Linked DNA regions of Homo sapiens. The protein of the gene in region 3 interacts with the protein of the main gene of each other region in a pairwise test. Each region holds a gene or a part of one and is shown on either strand. Other genes may lie near its edges.

Region 1 (8,489 bases), on a different chromosome or scaffold from region 3:
AACCTGCGAGGCAGAGGTTACAGTGAGCCGAGATCGTGCCATTGCACTCCAGCCTGGGCAACAAGAGCAAAACTCCATCTCAAAATAAATAAATAAACAAATAAATAAATAAATAAAATAAAATAATTAGCTGGTCATGGTGGCACATGCCTGTAGTTCCAGCTACTTGGGAGATTGAGGTGGTAGGGATCACTTGAGCCCAGGAGTTCAAGGCTGCTGCAGTGAATCACAATCATACCAGTGCATTCCAGCCTGCGCGACAGAGATCCCCACATCTCTTAAAAAATAAATAAATGGAGCTGGGCGCAGTGGCTCACACCTGTAATTCCAGCACTCTGGGAGGCCAAGGTGGACGGATCACATGAGGCCAGGAGTCAAAAAAAAACCAAAAAACAAAAAAGCTGGGTGTGGTGGCACATGCCTGTAATCCCAGGTACTTGGAAGGCTGAGGCATAAGAACAGCTTGAACCCGGGAGGCTGAGGTTGCTGTGAGCCAAGACTGCACCACTGCACTCCAGCCTGGGCGACAGAGCGAGACTCCATCTCAAAATATGATAGATAGATAGATAGATAGATAGATAGATAGATAGATAGGGCTGAGTGCGGTGGCTCACATCTATAATCTTAGTGTTCTGCGAGGCTAAGATGGGAGGATCACTTGAGCTCGGGAGATCAAGGCTGCAGTAAGTTGTGTTTGTGCCACTGCACTCCAGCCTGGGCAACAGAGTGAGATCCTGTTTCTAAATAAATAAAGAAATAAGTAAACAAAAGATAAGTGGAGTAAGAGGCTGACACTGAGACCCTGTCCTAAGCCCCCATCTCTCACATATCTACTCCCTCCCCTGTTTGATACCTTCTGGCGTTTGTAAATGGTGGGCAGTGGGGCCACCTCACAGTCCTTGTGGGCACCGAAGACCTTGCAGAGAGAGCAGGTGGGCACCTCACAGCTCAGGCAGTAAATATTGATCTTCTCTTCTTCATGCTCCTCGCACATGAGGTGCTGCTCAGCCTTGGAGTGCAGCGGCCTAGAGAGGAGTGGGCAGGGGGAGGTGGACCTTAAGCATGAAGGGTCCTAGGAATACCTTCTCTTCAGCCTCCACCAACTGCCACCACCTTCTCCGCCCCTGCAGCTAGTGCTGTGGCTGAACTGGTGAGTACTTCCACAGAGCTCTGAATTTGGGGAACAGAAGGAGCTAAGAGATAGAGGAGGCCTGGATCCGAGAACAGTCTGTATTACAAGGGGGCAGGGAAGTCCCACAGGACAGGAAGTCTTGGAGGGTTAGCGAGGATCTTGCTGGTGGACTGCCAGCCTCTCCCAGGAGGAGAGGGTAGGAGTGAAGTACTGGCTAGGGAATCAGAGACTGCCCTCTCTGGGAGGCCTGAGGCAAGTCCCTCTCCGGATCCAGTCCTATGGTCTCTAGACAGAACAGGCAGGTTGACCGTTTCAATCTCTCCCTTTTGGCTCTGATGGGTTCCTTGGCTGTGTCCCAAGCCCTGTCATGAGAGAGGCAAGAGACTCTGGTGGCTCACCTGGATGACTCCTGCTTGTAAATGTCGATAATGTTCTCCACTAGCAGGTTTCGCTGCAGGCCGTAGACACCGTGTCTGTCCAGGACAACCTCATGCCTGCACGATGGGCAGCGGAAACGGCCTCCTGAAGACACAGTGGTGGAGCCCCGGGACTGCCATAGAGGATTCGAGGCCTGCAGGGACAGATGGCTTGAGAGAACAGGCACGGGGAGGCATGAAGGGACTCGGAGGAGGCAGGGGGAAAGGGCTTGGGGGCTAGGGAGTAGGAACTTGATGGAGGGGAAGATGTCAGCTCTTCTCTGTGGCTGGATCCACCTCTGAGAGCAGCGCACGGTGGACGGCCATGGAGACCCTGCTTCCCACCTTTGCCTCATTATTCAGCCCACCTCCTAGAGTGCCCCTGCATCCAGAACTCAGCTTTGGTCAAGGCATAGTCAGGATGGGATCTCTCCAAAGGGGTCCAGCTTGGAGCCATGGGGAGACATTGGTCTTGGCAATAAGGCTGAGGCAGGAAATGAACTCTGAGTGGTGCGACCAATGTCTTCCAGTCTGGGGCCCTCTTGGGCCACAACTGGAGGAGATTCTCTGCAGTCCTGGGCAGGGGTACAAGCAGATACAAGTGCTCAACAATGGGGTTCACAAACTGTAACTAGCCAGGTAATTCTAGAAAATTGCTCCAGGAACTGGAAGTCAGGAGTCCTGGGTTCTTGTGCTATCTCTGATGCCCTCCCCCCGGCCTTTTTTTTTTTTTTTTTTTTTGAGACAGGTTCTTTCTCTGATGCCCAGGCTGGAGTGCAGTAGTGGGATCACAGCTCACCGCAGCCTCGACCTCCTGGGCTCAAGCAATCCTCCCATCTCAGTCTTCTGAGTAGCTGGGACTAGAGGTGTGTGCCACCATGCCCAGATAATTTTTTTTATTTTTAGTAGAGATGAAGTATCACTATGTTGCCCAGGCTGGTCTTAAACTCCTGACCTCAAGTGACCCTCCCACCTCGGCCTCCCAAATTGCTGGGATTATAGGCGTAAGCCACCATGCCCAACCTCTTAAGTATATAAATTTAGGCAGGTATTCAACCTCTGTAAAGCTGAGGATAAAATTATTCATTTATAGTGTGCCAGGTAGTTGCTGGACTCTGAGTTAAAGATACAAAGAAAATGCATCCTGTCCTAAGGACAAGCACCTGACAACTGCATCCAGCAGGATGGGTGTTGTGATAGGGGTAGGCTCAGAAGGAGGACTTAACAGACACCCATCACTTCCTCCGGCTTACATCTCTTGCCTAGAGTAGTTGCTCCATCCTATCCTAGAAGGGAGATCCCTGCCACAGATGATTGATTCAGAGCTAAGGAGGTGATCACCTGACCCAAGCAGAACCAATCAAATATTCTCTCCTAAGAATTTGGACTTGAGACTCAGGGGCTTAGCTGGCTACGCCATGTTCTGCTTAGGAATTGAATAGACCTGTGGAATTGGGCTAAGAGCTGACATCACGGCCACCCTGGAAAGTGTAAGGGGTCAGAAACTGAACAGAGAAGGCTGGTCTACAGAGAAAAGAGTCTATGTGTGGGGAGATGCAGAGATGAAAGACTGGCAGACACTGCTTATTGTACCCTGACGTTCACCACCTTTTCTTCTTTAATAATAAGTGCCCTGAGTTTTAACAAGACACATGGTATAAAGGGCTGGGTGTGGTGGCTCATGCCTGTAATCCCAGCACTTTGGGAGGCCGAGGTGGGCAGATCACTTGAGCTCAGGAGTTTGAGACCAGCCTGGGCAACATAGCAAGAACTCATCTCTACTAAAAATAAAAAAATTAGCTGGGCACGGTGGTGCACACCTGTAGTCCCAGCCACTTGGGAGGCTGAGGCAGGAGAATTGCTTGAAACCAGGAGACAGAGGCTGCAGTGAGCTGAGATAGTACCACTGCACTCCAGCCTGGGCAACAGAGGGAAACTCCATCTCAAAAAAACAAACCAAAAAACCCATGAATCTAAGCCTCCCTTCCAGCTGGGTGTGGCCAATTGGCTGTGCTCTGGGATGTAGATGCAAATGTTTTGTGTAATTTGTAGGAAATTGCACAAACCGTCTTTCATGGGAGGGGCATGCCCTGCTCCTCCCCTTTTCTCCTGCCTGCTGGCTGGAAAGAAGACGGGATGGCTCAAGTTGAAGCAGCCGTCTTGAGCCATGAAGTGGCAGCCACATGTTGAGAATGGTAACGAGATGAAAGGAGGTCTCTGATGAGGCAGTCCTGCACTGTCCACCCATACTTTCACTTGAGAATAAAGCAAATTTTTACCCTCTTTAAGCCACTGTTATTCTGGGGTTTCTGCCACTTAGAACAGAACCTAATCCCAACTGGCTGGAAGATTATGCATTCCTAGAGAGTAATGGAGACAGTGGTCACCTATGAGCTAGCATAGTGAGATGCACTTCCTACAACTGGGATGCATGAACTTCTCCAAACCCTTACACCATACACAAACCAGAAGACAGTTTGGAAGGCCCCTTGCGTGTGTGCAGCAACACCCCATCATGCACAGAGTGCAGCCAAGTCAAGGGTCTTGTTTGATCCTTTGGTAGCAAGGGCTGTAGGCAAGGCAGGAAACGTGGACCCACTGTGAAGTGAGCAGCTTATCTTGGGGAGAGTAACTGGTGTGTGCCATAAATATCACATCTTTCTTGGGATTTCTTGAGAATCATGTTAACCTTTAAGCCCATCATAAACCTGGGGCAGATTAGTTTGAGATAATTCAAGGCATGTTTGTACATCTGCCTTCTCAGTAGCTAGAAATGTATGAATATTGTTGAGTTTAGTTTAGGGAATGCGTTAAAGTGTATAATCACTTGCCTTTTGTTTGCTTAATACAATTACTTTTCAATATTTAGAACCCAAGTGAGGAAAGAGGTGTTGGGAGAACTCTAAGGCTGCAGTCTCCTGTCTTTCTTATCTTTGATTTGCTGATGGCAAGCATATAGAGATATTTGAATGGGAGGAAGGGGGACCTATATCCCACAGCAAAGATAAACTCTTGGGCAGCCGCTCTCCCCAACCTCCATCCCTCACTGCACCCTTCCTCTTCCTGAGCCACAAAGGCAGGGATACTCATTACTTAACATTCAACAAATGTTTTGAGACCAGGCGCGCTGGCTCATGCCCGTAATCCCAGCACTTTGGGAGGCCGAGGTGGGTGGATCATGAGGTCAAGAGTTCGAGACCAGCCTGGCCAACACGGTGAAATCCCGTCTCTACTAAAAATACAAAAATTAGCTGGGTGCGGTGGCAGGCGCCTGTTATCCCAGATACTTTGGGAGGCTGAGGCAAGAGAATTGCTTGAACCCGGGAGGTGGAGGCTGCAGTGAGCCAAGATCATACCATTGCACTCCAGCCTGGGAGACAAGAGTGAAACTCCGTCTCAAAAAAAATATGTTTTGAGGGCTTATCATGTGTCAAGCATCGTGTCATGGGTTTTCCAGACATTGTTGTATTTATTCCTCAAGAACTTCTTGTAAAGATGGTTGAGGATCCCAGCTACTCGGGAGGCTGAGGCACAAGAATCACTCAAACCCTGGAGTCGAACCCAGGAGGCCGAGGTTGCAATGAGCCGAGATTGCGCCATTGCACTCCAACCTGGGCGACAGAGCAGGACTCTGTCTCAAAAAACAAACAAACAAAAAAAGATGGTCGAGGAGGTGAACAATCACTCCTAACTTAGTCTACAAGAAATAGAATAATAATGGCTAACATCTACTGAGCCAGGATTTGCTCTAAGTCTTTCATTTGTATTAATTCACTTAATCCTCATATCAACCCTGAAGTAGGTAATACTCTTTTTTTTTTTTTTTTTTTTTGAGATGGAGTCTTGCTCTGTCGCCCAGGCCGGAGTGCAGTGGTGCAATCTCAGCTCACTGCAACCTCCATCTCCTGGGTTCAAGCGATTCCCCTGCCTCAGCCTCCCAAGCAGCTGGGACTACAGGCGCCTGCCACTATGTCCGGCTAATTTTTTTGTATTTTAGTAGAGACAGGGTTTCACCATGTTGGCCAGATGGTCTCAATCTCCTGACCTCATGATCCGCCCACCTCAGCCTCCCAAAGTGCTGGGATTACAGGCGTGAGCCACCATGCCTGGCCCTGAAGTAGGTAATAGTCTTAGCCCCATTTCAAGGATGAGGAAATTGTGTCTCAGTGAAATTAAATAAATTGTACACGGTCATGAGCTAATAGGTGGCAAAGCCAGTACTGGAACTTAGGCACTCTGACTCCAGAGCCTGTCCTAATAATCATTGTGTTCCATTGTCAGACACAATAAAACTTAGGCCAGGCTGTGCACGGTGGCTCATGACTGTAATCCCAACACTTTGGGAGGTCAAGGCAGCAGGATGGCTTGAGTGCAGGAGTTCAAGACCAGCCTGGGCAGTACAGTGAAACCACGTCTCTACAAAAAGAAGAAAAAGCAAGATGGCTCATGCCTTTAGTCCCAGGTATTTGGGAGGCTGAGGTGGGAGGATCACTTGAGCCCAGGAAGTCAAGGCTGCAGTGAGCTGTGATCATGCCACTGCACTACAGCATGGGTGACAGAGGGAGACCTGTCTCAAAAACAAAACAAACAAAAAACAAAACAAAAAAACCCTTAGAGCTAATATTCATTTCTCTGAGTCTCAGGCAGAGGCAGTTTCTTTTACTGTTGTTGTTGTTGTTATTATTGTTGTTGTTGTTTTTGAGACAGAGTCTCACTCTGTCGTCGGGCTGGAGTGCAGTGGCAGGATCTTGGCTCACTGCCACCTCCACCTCCCGGGTTCAAGCGATTCTCCTGCCTCAGCCTCCTGAGTAGCTGGGAGTACAGGCACGTGCCACCATGCCCGGCTAATTTTTTGCATTTTTAGTAGAGATGGGGTTTCCCCATGTTGGCCAGGCTGGTCTTGAACTCCTGACCTCAGGTGATCCACCCACCTCGGCCTCCCAAAGTGCTGGGATTACAGGTGTGAGCCACCTCACCTGGCCGTTTTTTGTTTTTGTTTTTTAAGTAAAAAAAGTAAAAGGGTAATGAAGGAACAAACCTCAAACCTTCACAGAGGAAAGAAACTACAGCCTGAAAATCAACTATGCAACTGTGGACTAAAGCTATTTAAGCAAAGATCAACAAAAGATGACTCATCAAATTAAAACCCTGTGTGCCATGGAGCTCTATAAGGGCCCTGCTTTCAACCAGAATGACCTGTTTGTCTGTGAAATGGAGAGGAAATAGCTCAAATCTCAGGGGAGACCTCCTCCCATGGACCTGTGTGGGCCTCTATGGTAGATAAATCACCGGATTCTGCGTGAAAAATACTCCAAGACAACACAACCAAATTGAGACACTCAACTACCTATTAATTCAGGTCATACCCCTCTATTCACCAAAGAAGGCACAGAACTAAAGAGAGATTGCAAAACCAATGACAACATCCAACCAGGCAGCTTATATTTAAGAGGACAGTGAAAGAAAGCCAAGATAAACACAGTGGGTTGAGTCAGGAATTCACCTTCAGCTCCAGATAAAAGTACCCTGATAAAAGGGGAGTGATAAGCAGACAGAATCCAACAAAAGATGCAAACCAGATAATACAAAAAGAAAAGAAAAAAGAAAGCTTGACAAACAAGGGACAGATACTCCAAGAATCAATACCATTTCGATATACCATTTTAAAAGAAATAACAAAAACAAAGAGATATAAGTGATCAAAACTGGAGAAGAAAAGAGAGCTGGCAGAATTAAGGAAAGAAATCAAGTAAATATCAACACAGAAAAAAAATCCACATTTGACAGGAGAATGGATGATGCTGATAAAAGTCACATAGATTGCAATAGAAATTATCAGCTAAAAGTAACCAGGTCTGCAGTCTGTAACATGGATAAACCTTGAAGACATTATGCTAAGCAAAATAAGCCAGACACAAAAGGACAAATATTGTATGATTCCTCTTAAATGAGGTACCTGGCATAGGATGGATGGTGGTTGCCAGTTGCTGGAAGGAGGGGGAGTAGGGAGGTATTGTTTAAGGGGTGTGGGGTTTCAGTTTGGGGTGGTGATAAAGTTCTGGGGATGGATAGTGGTGACAGTTTCACAACAATGTAAATGTATGTAATGCCATTGAACTGTACATTTAAAAGGTTAAGGTGGTACATTTCATGTTATGTGCATTTTACAAAAATTAAAAAAAATTTTTTGAGACAAGATCTCTCTCTCTGTCGTCTCAACTTCCTGGGATCGAGGGATCCTCTCACCTCAGCCTCCCAAGTGGCTGGGACTGCAGGTGTGCCACCATGCCCAGCTAATTTTTAAAAAAAGTTTCTGCAGAGATAGGGTCTTGCTAGTTGCCCAGGCTGATGTCAAACTCCTGGCCTCAAGCGATCCTCCTACCTCAGCCTCCCAAAGTGCTGGAATTTCAGGGGTGAGACCCCATGCCAAGCTTACAATTTTTAGAAAGAAAAAAGTAATCAGGACTTGGGCTATCTTGGCCAATGTCTTCCTTCAAACTCCCCACAGCCAGAACTGACTTCAGGACTTGACCTGAGGGAGGCACACTAACACCACCTCTTCAACACCCTCCCACCTGCCAAAGCAATTTCTTTAGCAGCTCATCGCATTGGTTAGTCATTGCATTTATTCTGGAGCCCAGAAGGCTAAGAGGCATCAGTACTCAGGCAGTCCAACCCAAGTCCTTTGAAAAGTTCCTGTCTTGGGAGAGAGAAATCGGGAGTGTGTGAGCTCAGGGTGCAGGGCGGTGGGGAGAGGCTGCACCTCTGCTTTCCCACCGTCTTGCTCAGGGCTGGTGCTGCTCCCTGCTGCTGACACCACAGTCCCGTATTTTGCGTGTAGCTTTCATCCCCCAGTCCCAGAGTCCCCTCCTGATTCACAAGTCCAATTTCTCCTGCCATATCTCCGTCGGGCCTGGCTGGCTTTCATCTTAATCTCCAGG
Region 2 (4,751 bases), on a different chromosome or scaffold from region 3:
CACCAACGGGATGAAAGATCTTAGCAGTGGAGACTGGGGAAAAGAAACACCAGCTTGGCGAAGTGGCAGGTTTTGGCTAAAGATGTGGCTAGATTTGGCAGGGGAACAAGTGCCTGAGGATCTCTTCTCTTTGGGGCTTTCAAGGTTTCAGGAAATCAGATTGCCATATCACATAGCCAATCTTATTTCCCAAGACTCTTTTTTGGCCCCTGTCCTAAATGTCCTGTAAACACACATGTCTGATTCCTATGTCACTTCTGATGCAGATTGTGAAATCAAGTCTTTACTATTAACAGCTTTTTATTGCTTGCTGTCTTCTTTGTGTTTTAGCTCTTCTTCTCTGCTGAAATGTGAGCTTTTTGAAGTAGGAGGGAGATTTTGAGTTTCTTTTTTATCTTATAAAATATCGAGTTCAGTGATGGACATATATAAACTAGACATTAATTATAAGTTGATTATTAAAATAATCACATCCTTCTTTGTGGGCTAAGCCGTTGACACGGTAGTCTAATTTCAGCTATCATGCCACTGAGTTCTTATGTGATGCCATTAAAAATGCCCACATTAAAAAAATGACTATAATCTGAATTGTATAAAGAAGGTAATGTGATACCCTACCTCGTTTTAACCTGATTGTCTCTCTTAGCTGAGAGAGCCGGACAGACTCCATTTTTGTTTCTTCACTTGCAGCTCCCCTCCCTTAAAGGCATAAGTAGTGCAAGCTGACTCCGAGCACATCCAGGAATGCGCTTACTGATGAGATATCGAGGCAAGCTAAATCAGCAGTTCCTGAGGACGCGCTTGGGGGATGGCACCCAAAGCCCCTGCATTATCTCTTTGTGATAGTTTGAGCCCCTGCACCTGGAACTGTTTACTTTTCTGTAACTGTTTCTGTAACCAATTAATCTTTCTTAATTGGTTTGCCTGTTCTGCTTCTGTAAAAATTGCTTCAGCTAAACTCCCTCTCCCCTATTTAGACCACGATATAAAAAGAAATCTAGCCCCTTCTTCGGGGCCGAGAGAATTTTGAGCTCTAGCCGTCTTGTTCGCCGGCAATAAAAGGACTCCTGAATTAGTCTCAGAGTGTGTCATTTCTCTATAACTCGCTCAGTTACAACAGTAAGATATAAAGAATGAACTGACATTAGTAATATAGTCATGCAGCTAGATCATACTTGATAGCTTCCTTCCTAGGTAAAATACTTTTTAAAAAAATAAGTAATAATTAACTTGCAAAAGTAAATTTATTGAAGCATAGAAACAATTAAAGCAAAGTTGTTAATTCAGCTATTTCAAGAGCATTCTAATGAGGAAATAAGAAGATGCAGAAAAGTTGGCTAGTCATCCATTTCTGGACTGAAGCTTTTCCTGAAATTATCCAGAAAGATGCCTAGATTGATGCCATTTCTTCGCTTGTGTCCTTCTTGATTTTTTTTTCTTTGAAAGACACTTTTGTTGATCTGGAAGTTCCTTATTTAACTTTCACCTCAGAAATACTGCTGACTTGAGACGAGACAACCTTGCCATCCACCAACTCCTCTACGATAGTCTTAGTCACTCTAGTCTTGCTTGAATCTGAAAATCATGGGATTGCAATGTCAGTCTGGAAACTCTCACAGAAACACAGAGCAAGAGAAATTCAATCACATGCATTCAACGTGTTCTGTCTGGGTAAGATTATGTAAAAAATAGCGGACTCTTTTAGTATGACAAGCAAAGTATGTCTTCACTTTTAAATTACAGAACTATTATCAATATTAAAAAAAGTCTACCTCGTCCTTGACCAGAACAGCTTCCAGATCTTGAGTCACCAGATACCAGATCCCTGGATCCCATGTTTACAGATCCTGAGTTTCTACCACCAAATTCTGCAAAACTAGAACCACTGGAGAAAAAAAGAATTATGTTTTCCTTTGCAGTTTGCAAAGGCAGGAGAAAGCCTCCGCCCCGGGGATTCTTCATGATGAAGTTTTGGATGTGTTTATGTGTTTTAATTGGATTGTGTCTGCTGCTTTTTTGTTCAACCTTGCACTCCTGGGCTCAAGTGATCCTCCTGTCTCAGCCTCCCCAGTATCTGGGATTATAGGTGTGCACCACCATGCCCAGCTAATTTTTTTTTTTTTTTTTTTGAGACAAGGTCTCGTTCTATCACCCAGGCTGGAGTATAGTGGCATGATTACAGCTCACTGCAGCCTCAGCCTCCTGAGCTCAAGTGATCTTCCCGCCTCAGTCCCCTGAGTAGCTGGGACTACAGGTGTGTGCCACCACGCCTGGCTAATTTTTGTATTTTTAGTAGAGACAGGATTTCACCATGTTGGCCAGGCTGGTCTCGAACTCCTGACCTCACGTGATCTGCCTGCCTTGGCCTCCCAAAGTGCCGGGATTACAGGCATGAGCCACTGTGCCCAGCCTCCAGCTAATTTTTTAAAAATTATTTTTTGAAGAGGAAGGGGTTTTGCTATGTTGCTCAAGCTGGTCTTGAACTCCTGGGCTCACGTGATTCTCCCACCTCAGCCTCCCAAAGTGCTGGGATTACAGGCCTGAGCCACTGCACGCAGCCTGTGTCTGTTACTTTATTACTCTCTATATATACAAGTCTAAGCCCTGAGTCCCATTTTGGTTTTATAAAATAAATTCACTAAGGTATGCATTTTAGTTTGTTCATGACTTTGGTTTACCCTCCCTCTCCATCGAGCAGGCGGCGGTAGGTCTCGATCTCCACCTCCAGGCGTGTCTTGATGTCCAGCAATTGCTTGTACTCTGCGTTCTGGCATTTAGTCTCACCCCAGATCTGGCAGATCTCCTCCTCCAGGGCACTGATCTGCGTTTGAATTTCTGACAGCTGAGCCACGTAGCCAGCTTCTGTGTCAGCCAGGGTTCCCTCCAGGGAGCTTTTCTAAGAGAAAAAGCAAATAAAAAATTCATGATGAAAATAAATCATTGGATGATTTTTTAAAAATGCAATTTTATGTGGCACTAGAAGTGCACCTTCGCCATATAACCTATATTGTTATATCATTGCTTCTTTAATTTTGGTTGGCACTTCTTTTTAAACTAAATCTTTTATGCAAAATAGAGTACATTATCTTTAACTTTTAATGCTTTCTATAATCATAATGCAGTTCTCCTTAACACTGCCTTTTTTATGTGCCTAGTGAACCTCTTGGCAAAGAAAGAAAACTGCATTTGCTTAACTCCCTGTTGGAAAATGTGAAAAGCTATTTGCACATACCATGGCCAGTTGGGACTGAAGCTCAATTTCCAGGGCTTGCAGGGTACGTTTTAGTTCTGTTATCTCATTCTTGGCAGAAGTGGCTGCCCCAGCATCAGTGGAGATTTGTGCTTGTAGTGATGCGCTCTAAATACAAACATAATGCAGCTGTTGTAGGCTGATGAAAGGAGCAGAAGCGGCTTGTGTGTGGCTACTGGCTTAGGTGCTCAGCAGAGAGGATCTACCTGCTTGTTGAACCGCTCCTCAGCCTCTCGGCGGTTTTGCTCAGCCAGCTCCTCGTACTGCGCCCTCATGTCATTCAGTAATTTGGTCAGGTCGGTCCCTGGCGCAGCATTCATTTCTACGGTCACCTCCCCTCCAGAGCTTCCTTGCATATTCTTCATTTCCTAGCATGAAGGAAAAAAGACTATCGTGATGCAAACAGAAAAGTGATGACTTCCGAAAATGTGCCTAGACAACAACAATTTGAAAGTAGGACACTGAAAGGAAAAAAAAAAAATCAAATCTAGGTATAATTTACTCATGATTACTTTTGTTTCCTGGTCATAGTATGTGGGAAATTCACTTAGATAAAAATGAGTTTATTTTACCTTTTTTTCTTTTTTTTTCTTTTTGAGATGGAGTCTCACTCTGTCACCCAGGCTGGAGTGCAGTGGCTTGATCTCGGCTCACTGCAAACTCCGCCTCCCCAGTTCAAGTGATTCTCCTGCCTCAGCCTCCTGAGTAGCTGGGATTACAGGTGCAACAGGTGTGCGCCATCATGCCCTGTTTATTTTTGTATTTTTAGTAGAGAGGGGGTTTCACCATGTTGGTCAGGCTGGTCTCGAAATCCTGATCTCATGATCTGCCTGCCTTGGCCTCCCAGAGTGCTGAGATTACAGGCATAAGCCACCGTGCCAGGCCTATTTTACTTTTTTAGAGACACAGTATCTCTCTGTTGCTCAGGCTGGAATCCAGTGGCATGATCATAGCTCACTGTGGCCTCCAACTCCTGGGTTCAAGGGATCCCCCTGCCTCGGCCTCCAGAGTAGCTGAGACTAAAGGCATGAGCCACTGCACCCAGCCAATTTTATTTGTATAGAATGCATATGGGGAGAAATATGTTAGCTAGAGTTATTCGTTTATGTAGAACATGTTCCTACCTCCTCGTGGTTCTTCCTCAGGTAGGCTAGCTCCTCGGTGAAACTCTCAATCTGCATCTCCAGGTCAGAGCGGGTCATAGTCAGGTCATCCAGGACTTTCCGCAGGCCATTGATGTCAGCCTCCACGCTCTGCCGGAGACACAGCTCGTTCTCATACCTGGAAGGGGCAGCAGTAAGGCAAAAAATACTGTGAGCTCACCTGGCCGTGTTTCAAAGGGTACCTTCCATTCTTACATATTGAAAAAGTTCTCACTTGTGGGCATTTTAATAAATAAAGGTTATTAAGTTTTCTCTTGGGAAATTTTCCCTTGTAAAGAAAAATACCAATGTAATGTTAATTCTAATCATGTCTAACATTTTTAATAATAAAATTCTCA
Region 3 (8,489 bases):
AAGATCCTGGATTATTTCTGGAACAGACTGGGGATAATCACGAGGGGTGGTTCAGACACTGCACAGGCCTAGGAGCTTCTCTCTGGCTAAAGGGAGACCCAGCCACCACCACATGCCCTCGGATACACCTGGTTGCACAACTTTTTGGAATACAACTTGGCAAAAATCCCACTTATAAGAACAAAGACCACAGTGACACAAAAGTGCAAAACACTCGTTGCAGCTTTTAGGTAAGAGGGAAAAACCAGAAACAACCAAAATGCTCCTTGGTGGGGAATTAGCTACTATGTACATCAACATAATGGAAGCATTAAAATAATGCAGGAGGCTGGGCACTGGGGCTAATGCATGCAATCCCAGCACTTTGGGAGGCTGAGGTGGGAGGATCACTTGGGCCTAGGAGTTCAAGACCAGCCTGGGCAATGTAGCAAGACCCCATCTCTACAAAGCATTGTGATGTACACCTATGGTCCCAGCTACTCGAGAGGCTGAGGTGGGAGGATGGCTTGAGCCTGGCAGGTTGAGGCTGCAGTGAGCCGTGATTGCGCCATTGCAATCCAGCCTGGACAACAGAGCAAGACCCCATAAAAAACAGCTGCACACCAGGACCAACCATGCCACTGTGCCCCATGTCCTGCCCTGACCGCAGTGGGCAGGGATGGGAAGGGCAGCTTAGGTCTGTCTCCCTCACTTCAAGGGAGCTCATCAAAGTACTTAGGAATACAAAGGAGCTATCTGAAAAGAACAGGTTCAATCTAAGCATAATGACCTTTTTTTGTTTTTTTGAGACAGAGTCTCACTCTGTTGCCCAGGCTTGAGTGCAGTGGTGCAATCTCGGCTCACTGCAACCTCCACCTCCTGGGTTCAAGCAATTCTCCTGTCTCAGCCCCCCGAGTATCTGGGATTACAGGTGTGCACCACCATGCCTGGCTAGTTTTTGTTGTTGTTGTTCTTGTTTTGAGAGAAGTCTCGCTCTTGTCCCCCAGGCTTGAGTGCAACGGCTTGATCTCAGCTTATTGCAACCTCCACCTACCAGGTTCAAATGATTCTTCTGTCTCTGCCTCCCAAGTAGCTGGGATTAAGGCGCCTGCCACCACACCCGGCTAATTTTTGTATTTTTTAGTAGAGACAGGGTTATACCACATTGGCCAGGCTGGTCTCAAACTCCTGACCACAGGTGATCCGCCCGCCTCAGCCTCCCAAAGTGCTGGGATTACAGGTGTGAGCCGCCACGCCCGGCCATGTCCGGCTAGTTTTTGTATTTTTAGTAGAGATGGGGTTTCACCATGTCATTCAGGCTGGCCTCAAACTCCTGACCTCAGGTGATCCGCCTGCCTTGGCCTCTCAAAGTGCTGGGATTATAGGCGGGAGCCACCGCACCTGGCCGATCTTTTTAAAAATTAAGAGATTTAGTGTTAATTGAAGATGCTGAGGAATGCAACCTCAATTAGATTTAAATACAAAAACAAAAACCTCCACCTCTCTGTATGTAAATACATCTAGAAAGATGTGAACTAAACAGGCACCTCTGGGGATAGACAGAGATTGCAGGTGCTGGTCAAGGGGGTGATCTCACTTTGTGTTGTGCTGCTTTTTAAGTAACACAGTTACTGAAAAATAATTTGATGTTTTGATACCTGTATCTATCCATCTATGTATACACACAGACACTGGGAAAGGATCCTTACGGTCAAGCTAATTAACATATCCATCACCTCACAGTTGGTTTTCATGGTGACAACACTTAAGATTGGCTCTCTTAGCAAATTTCAAGAATACAATATGGTATCATCAGCTGTGATCAACATGATGGACACTACTCCCAGATCTCCCAACCGAGGGATGTATCCTTTGACCAACATCTCCCCTTTCCCCCAACCCCTCACTGTCTTCATTCTTACGAGAATGCACTCATATACTAAGCAATGGAAGGCCTTTTTTACAAAAGAGGCTAAGAAAGATGTCAGGCTGTCTCTTCAGACTTACCAGCTCCTCTTGGATCTGCTGTGTGCGTCTGCTGAGTTGAGCGTTATACTGATGTCTCAAGAAACGCCTGAAGGAGAATCAAATGTGGGCTGCCTTCAGTATCTCAGAAAGAATTAAATAGAAGTTAGATAACTGCTGACCAGGCTGTCTCCTTTATGGTTTCAGCAACACGAATGCAAGTCTGAAAAAGCAAGAGGCCCACCCGCCTGGGAAGAGTGGGGGGCCCTTCTGACACACACCCCAGCTCTGCCTTCTGCCGGAAGGCTTCCATCTGCTTTCGCTCTTCCTCCAGCCTCTCTAGCTCCCACCGCTGCTTCAACAGATTCTCCTGCTCCTTCTTTAGTTTGGTCGCCTGTGGTGATGATGAGAGTAAGCTCGACTGAGATCTGAGATCGTGGGAATCAGATCTTCCTTCATTCTCCATCTCCATTTTTCGCAGACACTACACCAACAGAGGCCTGGCCATGCAGGTGGTCACGATCCCCTCCCACCACTCACTTACTCATCCAATCCCCTCTGAGCCATTTCCTGCAAGGGCCTTTCTGAGCCCTGAACTCTAAACTCCCACAGGATCCTGTACTGGTCCACTCTTACTGTAACTTAACAACTGTCCTCCACCTGACACAGCCCCCACCAGGAGGTCAGGACTGTGGGCCTTGGTCAGGCTCTATCTCTAGTTCCCAACCCAGTGCTCAGCACCTAGAATAAGCAGTAGGCACTAAGAATGTAGTTGCTAAATCACGGCCTGGGCAAGGGGAAGTGAGGTCACAGGAGCATGGGCCTCCCTCTTCTAAATAGAAAGATCTCTTTCAAGGAAACTGTGCCATGTTCTCCAAAAACAGCCCCTGGACCAAAAACCCTCAGTTATGCCTCGAGACCCGAAACCTGCTCCCCACGGAGAGCTGGGTGCTAGACCACCCGATTAAATTGTGTCTACTCAGTGCACTGGAAAATCCAGATTCTAAGAAGGTTCTCCAACAGCAGGCCGCTAACCACCTCTAAGAGAACAGCTACTGGCTCCATGTCGTTAATGTTCTGGAATTCAGGCACGCAAACGAGGAGGATGGGAAAGCACAAGGCAGATGGGGATGCATGTGAGAGGGAGAACCCGGCTGCTGCCGCCCTTTGCAGAATCTCAGCCCTGCTATGGCCTCTTCTTAGGGCAGCCTCTCAAGTGCCCATCTCATGCTAACGAGCAGCTGTGGAGGAGGTCACGGCTGAGAGGGGCTTGTGCCCACCTCCACCTCCTTCAGCTTCAGCTCCTCCATCTGTTGCAGCAGTGCCTCGGCCTGGAGCTTGTCCTCCAGCTGCCTCCTCTCCTCTTCAGCTTTCATCCTTTCTAGCGCCTCCCTTCGGGCCCTTTCATATTCATTTTCATACCGTTTGTTCTCTTGCTCTGCGGTGGCTTCTTGCTACAAGGGACCAAATGAACACAGGTCAATATCTGTACCGTAAGCCAACAAAAACCTAGCTTCCTGCCGCCGTTCTGCAGGCCACAGGGCCCAGGCAGTTCCTGCCTGAATCCCAAATGACAACGCCCTCAGACGCCAAGTCAGGGAGGGACTCAATAATGTTGGGTTTCCTCCCCACTCAACAAAACACTTTCTAAAATGAACCAGGCAGCAAAGCGACCAGTGCACAGAGGTGTGGAAGCTTAACCCCAAAGGGGTTACAGTAAGCCAGGGCTGCGAGTTTACGATGCAGATTTCATCAAAAGAGAGACAAAAATGCCCTTAAAGACACACGTCCTAGCTGGACCCTGTGGCCCACGCCTGTAATCCCAGCACTTTGGGAGGCCGAGGTGGGAGAATCGTTTAAGGCCAGGAGGCCAGACCAGCCTGAGCAACAGAGCAAGACCCCATCTCTACAAAAATTAAAAAATTAGCTGGGCGCAGTGGTGCGTACCTGTGGTCCTAGCTACTCGGGAGGCTGAGTTAGGAGGACTGCTTGAGCCCAGCCAGTCGAGGCTGCAGTGAGCTGTGAGTCGCGCCACTGCACACCAGCCTGGGTGACAGAGCAAGACCCTGCCTCCAAAAGAAAAAAAGAAGACGCGTGCTGTATGTGCCACCTCCCAGCCCTGGTCACCTGGCCTTATTCTGCCCTGGGAATTATCACATAGGATTCTGGTATATGTAAGAGCAAACATTCAGTTTTCACATGTGTCAAGTAAACTAAGAAAAGAGTACACTACACTCCTTAACTGGAGTCACTGATGCTGAAAACGGTAAACGAATGCAAAGACGTGAACAGTCTCGCACAGCAGAATACGCGGCTATTCCCAGAGCCACATACCACACCTGTTTTTTTTCTTCTTTCTGCATTTCCCAAGAGTTTACGACATGCTTCTGGTGAAGGTCCAGCTCCATCTGAGGATGGAAGGGGGACGATGTGAATTTCCTCACCAGACAGATGGGCACTGTGGGGACAGTGTGCTCCTGCCCTCTGTGCCACCTGCGGGAACGTGGCCATGACTTCGCTTCATGGGGACTCAGTGGCACAGGCGTCTAGTAGAGAGCGTGGGGTGACTTCAACATGTATAGTGTGAATGCATGTCAATCAGAAGACCAAAGGACCAGGCACTCCTACACCAATCTTTTGAGCTGGTACAAAGTAACAGAGACTTCCCTCCCACTAGCCCTAGGGTTGGGCTGGACGCTGAAATGGAAATACAATTTCAAAGGCCACCTTGGGTTGATGTACTGCATGCCAGGCCCTGGGAGACAGCTGAGTGAGAAGACTCAACCCTGTGCCTGGCTCCCCGAAGTTTCCTCTGCAAAGCAGATGGACTACGTACTCCCTGTATCAAGTGATGCACCAGTAGGTGCAACAAGTTTAGCATTGTTAGTAAGAGATTTGAGCGCAGACAATCTCCTGGATTAGAAAATGGATCACAACATTCAATCCAAATCTTTTGTTTGGGAAACTGTTTATAAAATTAGCTGGATATGGTGGCGCCCACCTGTAGTCTCAGCTACTCGGGAGGCTGAGGTGGGAGGATCACTTGAGCCCAGGTTTGAGACCAGCCTGAGCAACACAGGGAGACCCTGTCTCTATAAAAAAGTTTTAAAATAATCTTTCCCAACTTACAGCTGTGAACATAGGCAATTAACTTGAATGTTCTGAATAAACTTTTCTGATTTAACGGCTCTGGATGATTCCACCGAAGCCAACAGGGCTAAGGAGTCCTCCCACAGATTAGTGCAAACTGCACAAAAGCACCAGATGTTCCATTATTTAGTGCCTGGCGATTTCTAAATGTAACTACGAATAACACGAAGGCACCAAATGTATACAAAAACTGTAAGTTGAAAATAAATGAATAACAGTGAGGGATGATCTCCCTGCAGCCAAATCTCCACTGAACAAGGCCACCAAGCCAAGAGGCCACCCCCTCCCCTGCCAGCCCAGTTCAGGCCTTCACCAACCCCCGGCTGGGCTGTCGCAGCACCCCTCCCTGTCGGCGGGCACATTGCTACCAGAGGAGTCTCTCTGAAATGCAGCTGGGATCCTGTATGCTGCCCCCAGCCCCTTTGGAGGAAGGTCACACAAGCTCTTCCGATGTCTGGCACCCTCTGCCTCGCCAGCGTCATTTCTTGGGGTTCTCCCTCACTATCTGACATCCTAGCCTCACCCAGACACTTTCAGCTCCCAGGGCTCGCTCTGTTCTCGAGTCTCAAGCCTGGTTCTCACAGTCACATCAACCTAGAACATCCTTTCCTCACCTCTACACACATACATCCCTTCAAACTCTTCCACCCCAGGAACTCCTCTGGGAAGCCTCCCCAACCCCTCCAGAGTTGAGTGCGCTGGCCCATGCTCATCCTCTCAGGCTGGCCCAGCACCCTGCATCCTGCCCTGTAATGAGCTCCCATGCTGGACACAAGCTAATGAGCAGAAACCATGTCTAATCTCCATGCCCGCACCTGGCAGACCAGGCAGCGGAGGTTCAATCAACATTTGTTCAACAACCGAATGAGCCGCTCAGCGCAGCCTGTGCCAGATCTTCTGCCTGGCGCTCTTTTCAGGTGGCTCAAGGTTCCCTCCTCTGTTTCAACCCGGTACAAGATACGTGTTCAAAAAAAAAAGTGTCTGGAAACATGATTTCATCTACTTAGATAAATCAATGGAGATCTCTGATTTTCACCTCTCGAAGTTTCGGGTTGTTCTTTTTCCAGTGTTCGTACAAAAGTTGTTCAGCAATCTATCAAGAAAACACAAAATGGAAAGCCTGATGTCATTTTTCAAATCCATTCACATTTTGGATGACACACAGTGGAAGTCAGCTCAGGCTATGAGTGCCTCCCTTCACACCGTCACTGCAACCACTGTTCAAACCCTCATGCTTCACATGCACAGCTCTGAGAACCACATGGCACTACCAAGTGACTCTTGCAATGATGACAAAAGGGGGCCAAAATCTGATGCTACACAGAGGTCCTATCTAGGGGGTCTCAAAATAATACAGCAGGCTGAAAAGCACAGATTAGGGCTCACTGTTTCACATAACTACTTTGGAAGGTAAAACAGACTAGTCCCAGATCTCTGTGGACCCACAGAACTGGAAGAAAGGAAAAGCACTCAGATGTAATGATTGAAGGGGCTAAAGAGACTACAGCTAACTGATCCAAAACCCAGTCCCTGCACAAGGACCTAAGCTCTTTTCCTGCTGGCTCTGGAGTTAACTGGCATCTCATCAGACCTGAGCACCCAGGAATGACCCTACATGTGCGACACACTCAGGCTGGGAACACTCCTGCTCCACAGCCTCCTGAAGCCCTCTGGGGAGTTACCAGTTTCCTCTGCTCTTCTTTGGCTGATTTCAGCTTCCCGTGCTGCTCCCGGATTCTTCTTTCCTGCAAGTTCATGCTCAGCCTCAGCTCCTCCAGTTCTCTGGCCAGCAGGTCCTGCTCCTCCTGCATGAGCTGCCTGAGCTTTTCCCGTCGGGCCTCCAGACTCCTCCTCTTCTCCTCCTTCATCTTCTCCCGCTGATAGGCATGCATGCTGGGTGAGAGGGGGCCTGCCTGAATCAATCATGCTACAGCCACAGGGAACGTGCTCTGCTCTGCTGTGTCGGTAAAAGAGGCTGAGGTAGATGTGTCATGACGACACAGGAATGTGTCCCCAGCCAAAGCAGAGACAGCAGGTCACAGAATAGTATGTGTAAGAGAAAATCTTGTTTTTTGCAAAAAGAAAATGTATAAATGTATAAATAATGTATATATTATCCATCACATAAATCCTACAGCATAGGTCTGCTGTAGCCCCACTTGATTGATGAGGAAACCAAAGCTCATACATTCAGCAAGAGACACGGTCAGGATTTCCATCTAGGTCTGACTTCAAAGCCTATGCTTTTGGCCTCCATGTTTTTACACGTATTTCTATAAAAGTAGCTTTGTGTGTGTATATTTAAGCACAAATACCAGTGGGAAACAGCATGGAAGGATATGTGCCAGACTGTTAACTGTGGCTGTCTCTGGGGATATGGGGTTACAACCAGGCTTCCAAATTCTATCATATGCTTCTGCATCATTTTATCTTTTTCAATGCCAATGTATGGCTGCACTGATGATCTTTTTTTCCATTTCCAGCTGGAAAAACATCACCATGCAGGTAATTCATACTGCCTGGCAAATCCTACGCTCCCTAAATCCTTAAGGCCTCATCCCCTGACCAGCAAGTGGTCCCCACTTCCATCCAATCGGCAGTTACCGCACAATTACCTCCGCTGGTAGGAGGTTTTAGAGCTCCATTCTGCCTGTTTGGAGCTGCAGATGTCAGACATCCTGAAGTAACGGCTGTTCTGCTCCCACTGCTGCCGAAGCCGGGCCTCCTGCTCTCGCTGTCGTGCTAGCTGCTGATTCAGGCGCTGCTGGCTGCACCAGTAGGACGGCAGCGTCGGGAGCGCCATCTGAGAACAGGAATGGGAGGAAAGTGAGCCACTGCAAATCCCAGGAACCCTCACCAGCTTGGCCTCATCCCTTTAACGAGTGGTCACCACCCCTTGGCTGCACAGTGAAATCAACTGGTGGAACTTTAAAACAAACAAACAAACAAAACCGTGTCTGAGCCCCACTCCAAACTAATTCAATCAAAAAACTTAGTAGGGCCCAGGCACCAGCATTTTTTAAAATGATCTGCCACTAGTGCTGCAAATCATCCTTTTAAATTTGCCGTGGCTCACGCCTGTAATCCCAGCACTTTGGGAGGCCAAGGTGGGCAGATCACGAGGTCAGGAGTTCGAGACCAGCTGCGCCAACATAGTGAAACCCCTGTCTCCACTAAAAATACAAAAAATTAGCCAGGCGTGCTGGTGGGCGTCTGTAATCCCAGCTCCTTGGGAGGCTGAGGCAGGAGAGTCACTTGAACCCAGGAGGTGGAGGTTGCAGTGAACCAAGATTGTCCCACTGCACTCCAGCCTAGGCGACAGTGCAAGACTCCATCTCAAAACACAACAAAACAAAACAAATAAACCTTAGCCAGACACAGTGGCTCATGCCTGT
Region 4 (8,489 bases), on a different chromosome or scaffold from region 3:
GACATGGAACGGACCCAATAGGTCAAGCAGAATCGAGACAGGGATGTGGGCTCTGGAACCAAGATGGATGGTGGTTCCATCCACAGAAATCAGAGAACACGGTGGGAGTAGGGGGCTGTGCAGGAAGGGAACCTGGAGACATTGAAGTGGAGAAGTGCAGTAGGACTAGCGCTCCAAGGAAGATCCTGGGGCGGAGATAGGTGTTGAGGTAGCCACAATACAGAAGTGTGAGAAGAGGAAGCTCCTCTCTCCCCACAGGACAGGCTGCCCAGAACGTTAGAGCCCAGGAGGGCAGGAGAGTGACCAAGCAGCTAGAAGAGAGGGTGCAGCACCCCAAGGAGAGGACTGGGGGAGTGAGTGTTCCAGGAAGGGCTCTGGCATGTAAAGCTGCACAGAAGTCAAATCAGATAAAGCCTGAGAGGGATCCATGGGATTTCTTGGCAAAGGGATTGTTGGTGATACCAGGAAGAGCAGCTTCAGTGGCTCATGGGGAGAGAAGCCAGATTACAGGAGATCAGCAACTGAGAGAGTGAGTGGAGAGCATCTTTTAAGAATGTCTTGAGTGCGGGCCGGCTGCGGTGGCTCACGCCTGTAATCTCAGCACTTTGGGAGGCCGAGGCGGGCGAATCACGAGGTCAGGAGTTCGAGACCAGCCTGGCCAACATGGTGAAACCCGTCTCTACTAAAATTACAACAATTAGCTGGGCACGGCGCAGTGGTGCGTGCCTGTAATCCCAGCTACTCGGGAGGCTGAGGCAGGAGAATCACTTAGACCAGGGAGTCGGAAGTTGCAGTGAGCTGAGATTGCGCCACTGCACTCCAGACTGGTGACAGAGCTAGACTCTGTCAAAAAAAAAAAAAAAAAGAAAAAGAGCCGGGCACTGTGGCTCACACCTGTAATCCTAGCACTTTGGGAGGCCGAGGCAGGCAGATCACGAGGTCAGGAGATCGAGACCATCCTGGCTAACACGGTGTGAAACCTCGTCTCTACTAAAAATACAAAAAACTAGCCGGATGTGGTGGCGGGCACCTGTAGTCCCAGCTACTCGGGAGGCTGAGGCAGGAGAATGGCGTGAACCCGGGAGGCGGAACTTGCAGTGAGCCGAGATCGCGCCACTGCACTCCAGCCTGGGCGACAGAGCGAGACTCCGTCTCAAAAACAAAAAAAAGACAAAAAACAAAACAAACAAACAAAAAACCACATCTGGCTGTGAAAAGGCTAAAGAGTTAAAAAGAAGGAGTTTTTTATGAGAGACGTTTGCCGGGCACAGTGGCTCATGCCTGTAATCCCAGCAATTTGGGAGGCCGAGGTGGGAGGATCGCTTGAGCCCAGGAGTTCAAGACCAGACTGGGCAGCATCATGAGACAGAAAATTCAAAGTGAACTGGTGCAGTGGCTCATGCCTGTGATCACAGTTACTCCAGAGGCTGAGGCGGGAGGAGCTCTTGAACTTGGGAGGTTAAAGCTGCAGTGAGCTGTGATCACACCACTACACTCCAGCCTGGGCGACAGAGCAAGACCCTGTCTCAAAAAAAAAAAGACGGGAGAAACTTGACATGTTTTTTTTGTTGTTGTTTGTTGTTGTTGTTGTTGGTTTGTTTTGAGACGGAGTCTCGCTCTGTCGCCCAGGCTGGAGTACAGTGGCGTTGATCCCAGCTCACTGCAAGCACTGCCTCCCGGGTTCGCGCCATTCTCCCGCCTCAGCCTCCCAAGTAGATGGGACTACAGGCGCCGCCACCACGCCCAGCTAATTTTTTGTATTTTTTTAGTAGAGATCGGGTTTCACCGTGTTAGCCAGGATGATCTCAATCTCCTGACCTCGTGATCCACCTGCCTCAGCCTCCCAAAGTGGTGGGATTACAGGCGTGAGCCACCACACCCGGCCAAAACTTGGCATGTTTAATTGCTGGCAGGGGAGAGACAGGAGAAAGAGGCTGAAGACTGAGTAGGTATGGCAGGGGATGTGCAGCGGCTTGGGGGAGAGCTGAACATAGGTCGAGGGGTCTCAGATAGAGTGGGATGGAAGAGAAGGGGTTTCAGAGTGGAGCACAGGCACGGGAGGGGAATGGTGGGATAGGGAAGCCCCAGAGCATGGGAGAGGAGAGGGACTGAGGCTGGGCTGGGCATTCAGTCAGCCAGTGGCAGGAAGCTGGTGCTAATGCCGGGATTCAGGTCAACGAGGAAACGAAGAGTCCCAAGTGTGGGCACCCACAGAGAAGACCAGGAGTTGGAGGGGGCAGCTAATGCCCACAGCGGGAACTGGGAGCTCCTTGAAGAGGCTGTGGACCCAGGGCCCATGGCCTCAGAGGCAGGGGCGAGTCTTAGTGGCTATCCATAGCTAAACCAGAGGACCCTGGCTCTCCATCCACAGCGAAACAGGAAGACCCTGGCTCCTTGCTGAGGATGCTGTAGGTGAGGCAGGTGCCCCCAGCAGCAGACAGGAGAAAACAGAGGAACCACAGTGAAAGGCCAAGTGACCAGGTCCCTGCCTGTCTGGTGAAGAAACCCATGGGGCGCTGGGCGCGCTGGCCCAAGCCTGTAATCCCAACACTTTGGGAGGCCGAGGCGGGTGGATCACCTGAGGTCAGGAGTTTGAGACCAGCCTGGCCAACATGACGAAACCCCATCTCTACTAAAAATACAAAAAATTAGCTGGGTGTATTGGTGCATGCCTGTAATCTCAGCTACTCAGGAGGCTGAGGCAGGAGAATCACTTGAACCCAGGAAGTGGAGGTTGCAGTGAGCCGAGATCACACCACTGCACTCCAGCCTGGGTGAAAACATGCACCAGAAAGAACCACACCCCACCCGAGGAAAGACCCGCATAACAGGCAGAGACGGGCACAGGCTGAAGCAGCCAAGGATGTTACCCCCACGGGGCAAAGCTGGAGACTCAGGAACAGGAAACAGTTTTTTCTCTTTCTCTTTTTCTTTTTCTTTCTGGAGACAGAGCTCTTGCTCTGTTGCCCAGGCTGGAGTGCAGTGGCAGCCATCAACGGCTCACTGCCCCCTGACCTTCCAGACTCAGGTGATCCTCCCACCTCAGCCTCCTGGGTAGCAGGGACTGCAGGTGCGCACCACCACATGCAACTAATTTTTTTTTTTTTTTGTATTTTTTGTAGAGATGGGGTCTCAAGCTTCTGGGCTCAAGCAGTCTGCCTGCCTCATCCTCCCAAAGTGCTAGGTTTGCAGGTGTGAGCCACCACACCTGGCCAGAAATAGTTCTTTAAATGGACATGAAAAAACTTTAAAAGATTAGAAGACGCTGGGCACAGTGGCTCAAGCCTGGAATCCCAGCGCTTTGAGAAGCCAAGGTGTGGGAGGATCGCTTGAGCCCAGGAGTTTGAGACCAGCCTGGGCAACATGACGAAACCCAGTCTCTACAAACAAAATAATAATAAATTAGCTGGGCGTGGTGACACACACCTGTAATCCCCACTACTTGGGAGGCTGAGGTTGGAGGATCGCTTGAGCCCAGAAGGTCAAGGCTGCAGTGAGCTGTGATTTCAAGACTGCATTCCAGCTTGGATGACAGAATGAGACCCTGTCTCAACAACAAAAAAGGCCGGGCACGACGGCTCACGCCTGTAATACCAACACTTTGGGAGGCCGAGGTGGGTGGGTCACTTGAGGTTAGGAGTTCGAGACCAGCTTGGCCAACATGGTGAAACCCTGTCTCTACTAAAAATACAAAAATTAGCCGGGCATGGTGGCACGCACCTGTAATCCCAGCTACTTGGGAGGCTGAGGCAGGAGAATCACTTGAACCTGGGAGGCGGAGGTTGCGGTGAGCTGAGGTCGCACCATTGCACTCCAGCCTGGGCTACAGAGTGAGACTCCATCTCAAAAAAAGATGAGAAATCCTTCTAGAAAGTATGACAAAAAGCAAGATAGAAAATGGAAGGAAGCAGATACCAAAATTCGAAGATAATTCCAGTGGCCTCAGAATGAGAAGACAATGGTGGAGAGGAAGTTATCCAGGAAAGTAATGATGTCTAGAGCGGGGTCTGCGGCCAGAGAGCCCCATGCCCAGGAAGGGCCCTGCTGAGAATGAAAGGGCTACCCCCGGGGCATGTCACTGTGGGTTTAGCCTCTGGGGACAGAGTGCCCTACACACCCCAAGGGCAGCAAGTGGGGCCCTGGCTTTTCAGTGGTGGTGCCAAGCCCAGGACAGACCCAGCCGCATGCCAGTCGAGTGAGGGAAAAGTCACAAGAATGTTCTCTCCAGAACCCTTTTCTCGGGAAGGAGGAAGTTCACCAAACGGAGCAGGGAAGAGAGTCTTTTGGGATTCAGGAAGCAAGGGTGTCTCAACAGCAGGGCGCTAGGGAGGGTCTCGGGGGCAAGAGGCTGGGTACATTTGCTCGCATAGCGTGGCCCAGAGAGGCAGCTGATGAGGCAGTGAGGTCCCGGGAGGCCAGGGGTGGTCCAGGGCCAGGGTCAGAGCTGTGGGCTGACAAGGCCAGGGCCTCCCTGTCTGCTAGCCTCCATGCTTGGCCACGGGAAGGGGAGGTGGGTGGGCGGCGAAGACCACGCACACAGGCCACCTGGGATCCAGGTAGGGAGGGGGCAGTAGGTTCCTTGGGGGGGCCTCTGATCAAGCTGGGAGGACACCGTGGAAGGCACGGTGTGGAACCAGAGGATCTGGACCCTGTTGGCTCGAGGTCCTGCAGCCACGGAAGGAGGGGGATGTGTCTCAGCGACACTGGAACCTCAGAGGGCCGAGTGTGAGAGCCCTTGGGATGGACCTCAGAGGTCTGAGTATAGGAGCCTCTGGGACAGACCAACTCAGGGAGTGGAGGCCCACGCTCTGGCTGGGAAATGACAGGTGGAGGTGAGGGACCCCTGGGGCGGTGGACAGTTTGGAGACCAAGTGCAGAGCTGCTCCTGGCAGCTCAGAGCCTGGGGCAGAGGAGGGTGATGTCCCAGGAAGGAAGCTCCACGCAGGCCTGTAGAGCACAGCAGGGTCTGGCTCCTGTGGGCAGGGTGGGACCTGGTCTCCCTAGACGCTGGACCAGCCCTGCCTCCTCCCGGTGCCCATCATCCTGCAGGCTGGACCTGGGCCCTGCCTTTTGGTCAGATAGGTCCAGTTGTATTCTGCCCCCATCCTACCCACCTGCCTGTTCCCCTGAGACCCTCCCCTCACCCCCTGCTGTGGGGCTAGCCTAGAGGTCGAGGACTCTGACTCAGAGTTTCCTCCGGCTGTAGAACTTCTGGAGGTTTATATTCCGGAAGAACCTGCCCTCCACTGCCCTCTGTCAGATGGACTTTGCCGTCCTGGGCCTCGGGGACTCCTCATACGCCAAGTGAGTAGGGGATGGGACAGTGGGCGGACGGAACAGTTCTGGGGGTCGAGCAACAGGTGTGCTGGCAGAGGACCGAGACCAGCTTCCAGGGTCGGCCCCTGCGCGCCTCAGGGCCCTCGCAGTGGTACTGGCTTCTCCACAACGCTCCCTGGTGGGCACCCCAGGCTTCACGCTGCGGGGAGGGCACAGAGGGGAGCAGGCAGGGTGGCAAAGGGCTGGGCTCCAGCCACGCTGACGTCACACAGGCCTACCTGGCGCCGGTCCCCACTTTTACAAAAAGGCGTGCTGTGAAGTGTTGACGACTTTGAGCCTGGAGGAGGACCCCGTATGCTCCTGCCACCCCAGAGGCCACCTCTGCCTTTTCTCCTGGGCATTTTCACAGTGCTCCTCTGCACCCTAAGCAAGGAGTGGCATGTTCAGTGTGCAAATGGCATCTTTAGACCCCACAACGGTGAAAACCCCGACTGTCCACGTAGGGCCCAGGTCCGCTGAGCACCGAGCATCAAAAGCCGTTTGCATAGCCAGGTGTCAGTCATTTCAGATGAAAAAGAACGGGAAGATCGGAGACAGCTCCCCCCGGTTCTGCCGGGAGGTTTTGTTCCGTGCGTGACGTAGGTCCGTGCATGACGTTGTTTCCTGCGTGACGTTGTTCTGTGTGGGACACAGTGTTCGTTCAAGAGAGGGAGGGAGGCCGCTGCCGACAGCGTTCCCAGGGAGGAGCGTGACCCAGAGCCAGTCATGCCTCGGAACCAGAGTGAGAAGAGAAACTGACCCCCGGGAAGATGCCTGGCTCTCTCCCCAGCACAGAGTTTCTCAGCTGAGGAGTGACCCACATCTTGGCTGGGGGCCTGGAGGCCTCAGCTGCCTCAAGTCCCTGCCCAGGGATGAGGGCCCATCAGTGGGACGAGGCCGCCTGCTCCCACCCACACAGGCTCATTCTCTGCGAGCAGAGGACCTGCTGCTTGGCACCCTGGCAGCTGCCCTGGTCTCGGCAGCCCCTGGCGTGTGGAGGCCCTGCCCCCTCCTAGGGTGCGGCCAGCGTGGAGTGTGTTTTCCACCCGAGGGAGGCCCTCCCCAGGCTCCACTCTTCGCCCGGGCTCCACTCTCCCGGGTTCCACTCTGCCTGGGCACCACTCTCCGCCCGGGCTCCAGCCCAGGACCAGCCTCACTGTCTCCACAGGTTCAACTTCGTGGCCAAGAAGCTGCACCGACGGCTACTGCAGCTTGGGGGCAGCGCCCTCCTGCCCGTGTGCCTGGGCGATGACCAGCATGAGCTGGGGTGAGTCTGCGGGCGTGGTACCCGCCTCCACAGTCTGGTCTGGCCACACGCAGGGTCCGCTCAGGCCAGCGCACGTGCTCCCTCCCAGGCCCGACGCTGCTGTGGACCCCTGGCTGCGAGACTTGTGGGACAGGGTTCTGGGGCTGTACCCGCCGCCTCCGGGCCTCACTGAGATCCCTCCCGGAGTCCCGTGAGTGTGGGCCCCGGGTCACCCACAGGCGCAGCAGACCCAACCTGGCCTGGGGACCTCGCCCTGGGTCCCTCCCGTGTGGGTGGGCGGCCCCTGGGGAGTGGGTCCTGGTCTGACCAGCGTGCCCTCCCACAGCCTGCCCTCCAAGTTCACCCTGCTGTTCCTCCAAGAGGCACCCAGCACGGGCTCTGAGGGGCAGCGGGTAGCTCACCCCGGCTCTCAGGAGCCCCCGTCAGAGTCGAAGCCCTTCCTAGCACCCATGATCTCCAACCAGAGAGTCACCGGCCCCTCCCACTTCCAGGACGTTCGGCTGATTGAGTTTGACATCTTGGGCTCTGGCATCAGGTGGGGACTGCTGGGGACCGAGGAGGGCAAGGTGAGGTGGGCCGTGGGTCTGGGGTTCGGAGGAGGCTGGGCCGGGCTGCAGGGGATGACTTCTATCCGGGGCCCCGACATCCTCCCTGCGGCGTCCCCACAGCCCTGGTGGCTTCTTCCACACAGCTTTGCTGCTGGTGATGTGGTGCTGATTCAGCCCTCCAACTCGGCTGCCCATGTCCAGCGGTTCTGCCAGGTGCTGGGCCTGGACCCTGACCAGCTCTTCATGCTGCAGCCGCGGGAGCCAGGTGAGCCCAGCCTCGGCCACCCTGACTCTCTGCCCTCTCCCGTGCCCTGGGCCCCCACCCCAAGGGCTCCGCCGCAGCCCACGGAGGCCTCCCACTCACCCTGCAGATGTCTCCTCCCCCACGAGGCTGCCCCAGCCCTGCTCCATGCGGCACCTCGTGTCCCACTACCTGGACATCGCCAGCGTGCCTCGCCGCTCCTTCTTCGAACTCCTGGCCTGTCTATCCCTCCATGAGCTGGAGCGGGAGAAGCTGCTGGAGTTCAGTTCTGCCCAAGGCCAGGAGGAGCTCTTTGAATACTGCAACCGGCCCCGCAGGACCATCCTGGAGGTGAGATGGGAGGGCGGCAGGCCCAGCCCCTGAGCTACAGCCACGCTGCAGCCACCCTGAGACTCTCTTTGCCTAGGTGCTCTGTGACTTCCCGCACACAGCTGCCGCCATCCCTCCCGACTACCTGTTGGACCTCATCCCCGTTATCCGGCCGAGGGCCTTCTCCATCGCCTCCTCGCTGCTGGTGAGGGGCCTGGTGGTTGGAGCCCAGGACCGGCCCTGGGAAAGCTGGGACCGGGGCTGTGGGGTTTTGTAAGCAGGGGCTGCCCTCTGACCAGGTGACGTTCCCCCAGTCGGACTGCCTCTGCGGGAGGTAGGTGGGGCCCACGGCCCAGGCACAGGTGAGGGCAGCCTTGTTCCACCACCCCCACCCCGCCGTCCTCCCCAGACTCACCCCTCACGGCTGCAGATCCTCGTGGCTGTAGTGCAGTTCCAGACTCGCCTCAAGGAGCCCCGCCGGGGCCTCTGCTCCTCCTGGCTGGCATCCCTGGACCCTGGGCAAGGTGACCCCTGCTCCCAGGGTGGGGGCCGTGGGCCCATATCCCCTTCTCTCCCATGCTCATGCAAATGCTGGGCTAGGGCCCCAGCAGACTCAGCACAGGTCTTTGATCCTCTTCATGCCACCTCCTTCCTGCAATAGGACCTGTCCGGGTGCCCCTCTGGGTGCGGCCTGGGAGTCTGGCCTTCCCAGAGACACCAGACACACCTGTGATCATGGTGGGGCCTGGCACTGGGGTAGCCCCCTTCCGAGCAGCCATCCAGGAGC

What was found.
Region 1: the proteins of TCHP (region 3) and TRIM54 interact in binary tests that used the Homo sapiens proteins (3 or more experiments, as listed by UniProt).
Region 2: the proteins of TCHP (region 3) and KRT24 interact in binary tests that used the Homo sapiens proteins (3 or more experiments, as listed by UniProt).
Region 4: the proteins of TCHP (region 3) and NDOR1 interact in binary tests that used the Homo sapiens proteins (3 or more experiments, as listed by UniProt).

The regions. Positions count from the first base shown.
Region 1 is NC_000002.12:27,291,781-27,300,269, reverse strand, and holds part of TRIM54 (tripartite motif-containing protein 54), read right to left. Parts: intron 1,704-8,489; coding exon 1,531-1,703; intron 1,026-1,530; coding exon 854-1,025; intron 741-853; coding exon of another isoform or gene 615-740; intron 1-614. UniProt on the Homo sapiens protein: May bind and stabilize microtubules during myotubes formation.
Region 2 is NC_000017.11:40,696,766-40,701,516, forward strand, and holds the end of KRT24 (keratin, type I cytoskeletal 24), read right to left. Parts: intron 4,532-4,751; coding exon 4,375-4,531; intron 3,619-4,374; coding exon 3,457-3,618; intron 3,359-3,456; coding exon 3,233-3,358; intron 2,897-3,232; coding exon 2,679-2,896; intron 1,886-2,678; coding exon 1,773-1,885; intron 1,576-1,772; coding exon 1,472-1,575; 3' UTR 1,226-1,471; downstream 1-1,225.
Region 3 is NC_000012.12:109,902,435-109,910,923, reverse strand, and holds part of TCHP (trichoplein keratin filament-binding protein), read right to left. Parts: intron 7,898-8,489; coding exon 7,710-7,897; intron 7,004-7,709; exon of another isoform or gene 6,988-7,003; coding exon 6,777-6,987; intron 6,188-6,776; coding exon 6,131-6,187; intron 6,096-6,130; exon of another isoform or gene 5,910-6,095; intron 4,353-5,909; coding exon 4,284-4,352; intron 3,399-4,283; coding exon 3,225-3,398; intron 2,339-3,224; coding exon 2,226-2,338; intron 2,054-2,225; coding exon 1,987-2,053; intron 1-1,986. UniProt on the Homo sapiens protein: Tumor suppressor which has the ability to inhibit cell growth and be pro-apoptotic during cell stress. Inhibits cell growth in bladder and prostate cancer cells by a down-regulation of HSPB1 by inhibiting its phosphorylation.
Region 4 is NC_000009.12:137,207,296-137,215,784, forward strand, and holds part of NDOR1 (NADPH-dependent diflavin oxidoreductase 1), read left to right. Parts: intron 1-5,206; coding exon 5,207-5,304; intron 5,305-6,484; coding exon 6,485-6,583; intron 6,584-6,671; coding exon 6,672-6,773; intron 6,774-6,908; coding exon 6,909-7,118; intron 7,119-7,274; coding exon 7,275-7,396; intron 7,397-7,502; coding exon 7,503-7,723; intron 7,724-7,799; coding exon 7,800-7,907; intron 7,908-8,111; coding exon 8,112-8,226; intron 8,227-8,363; coding exon 8,364-8,489. UniProt on the Homo sapiens protein: NADPH-dependent reductase which is a central component of the cytosolic iron-sulfur (Fe-S) protein assembly (CIA) machinery.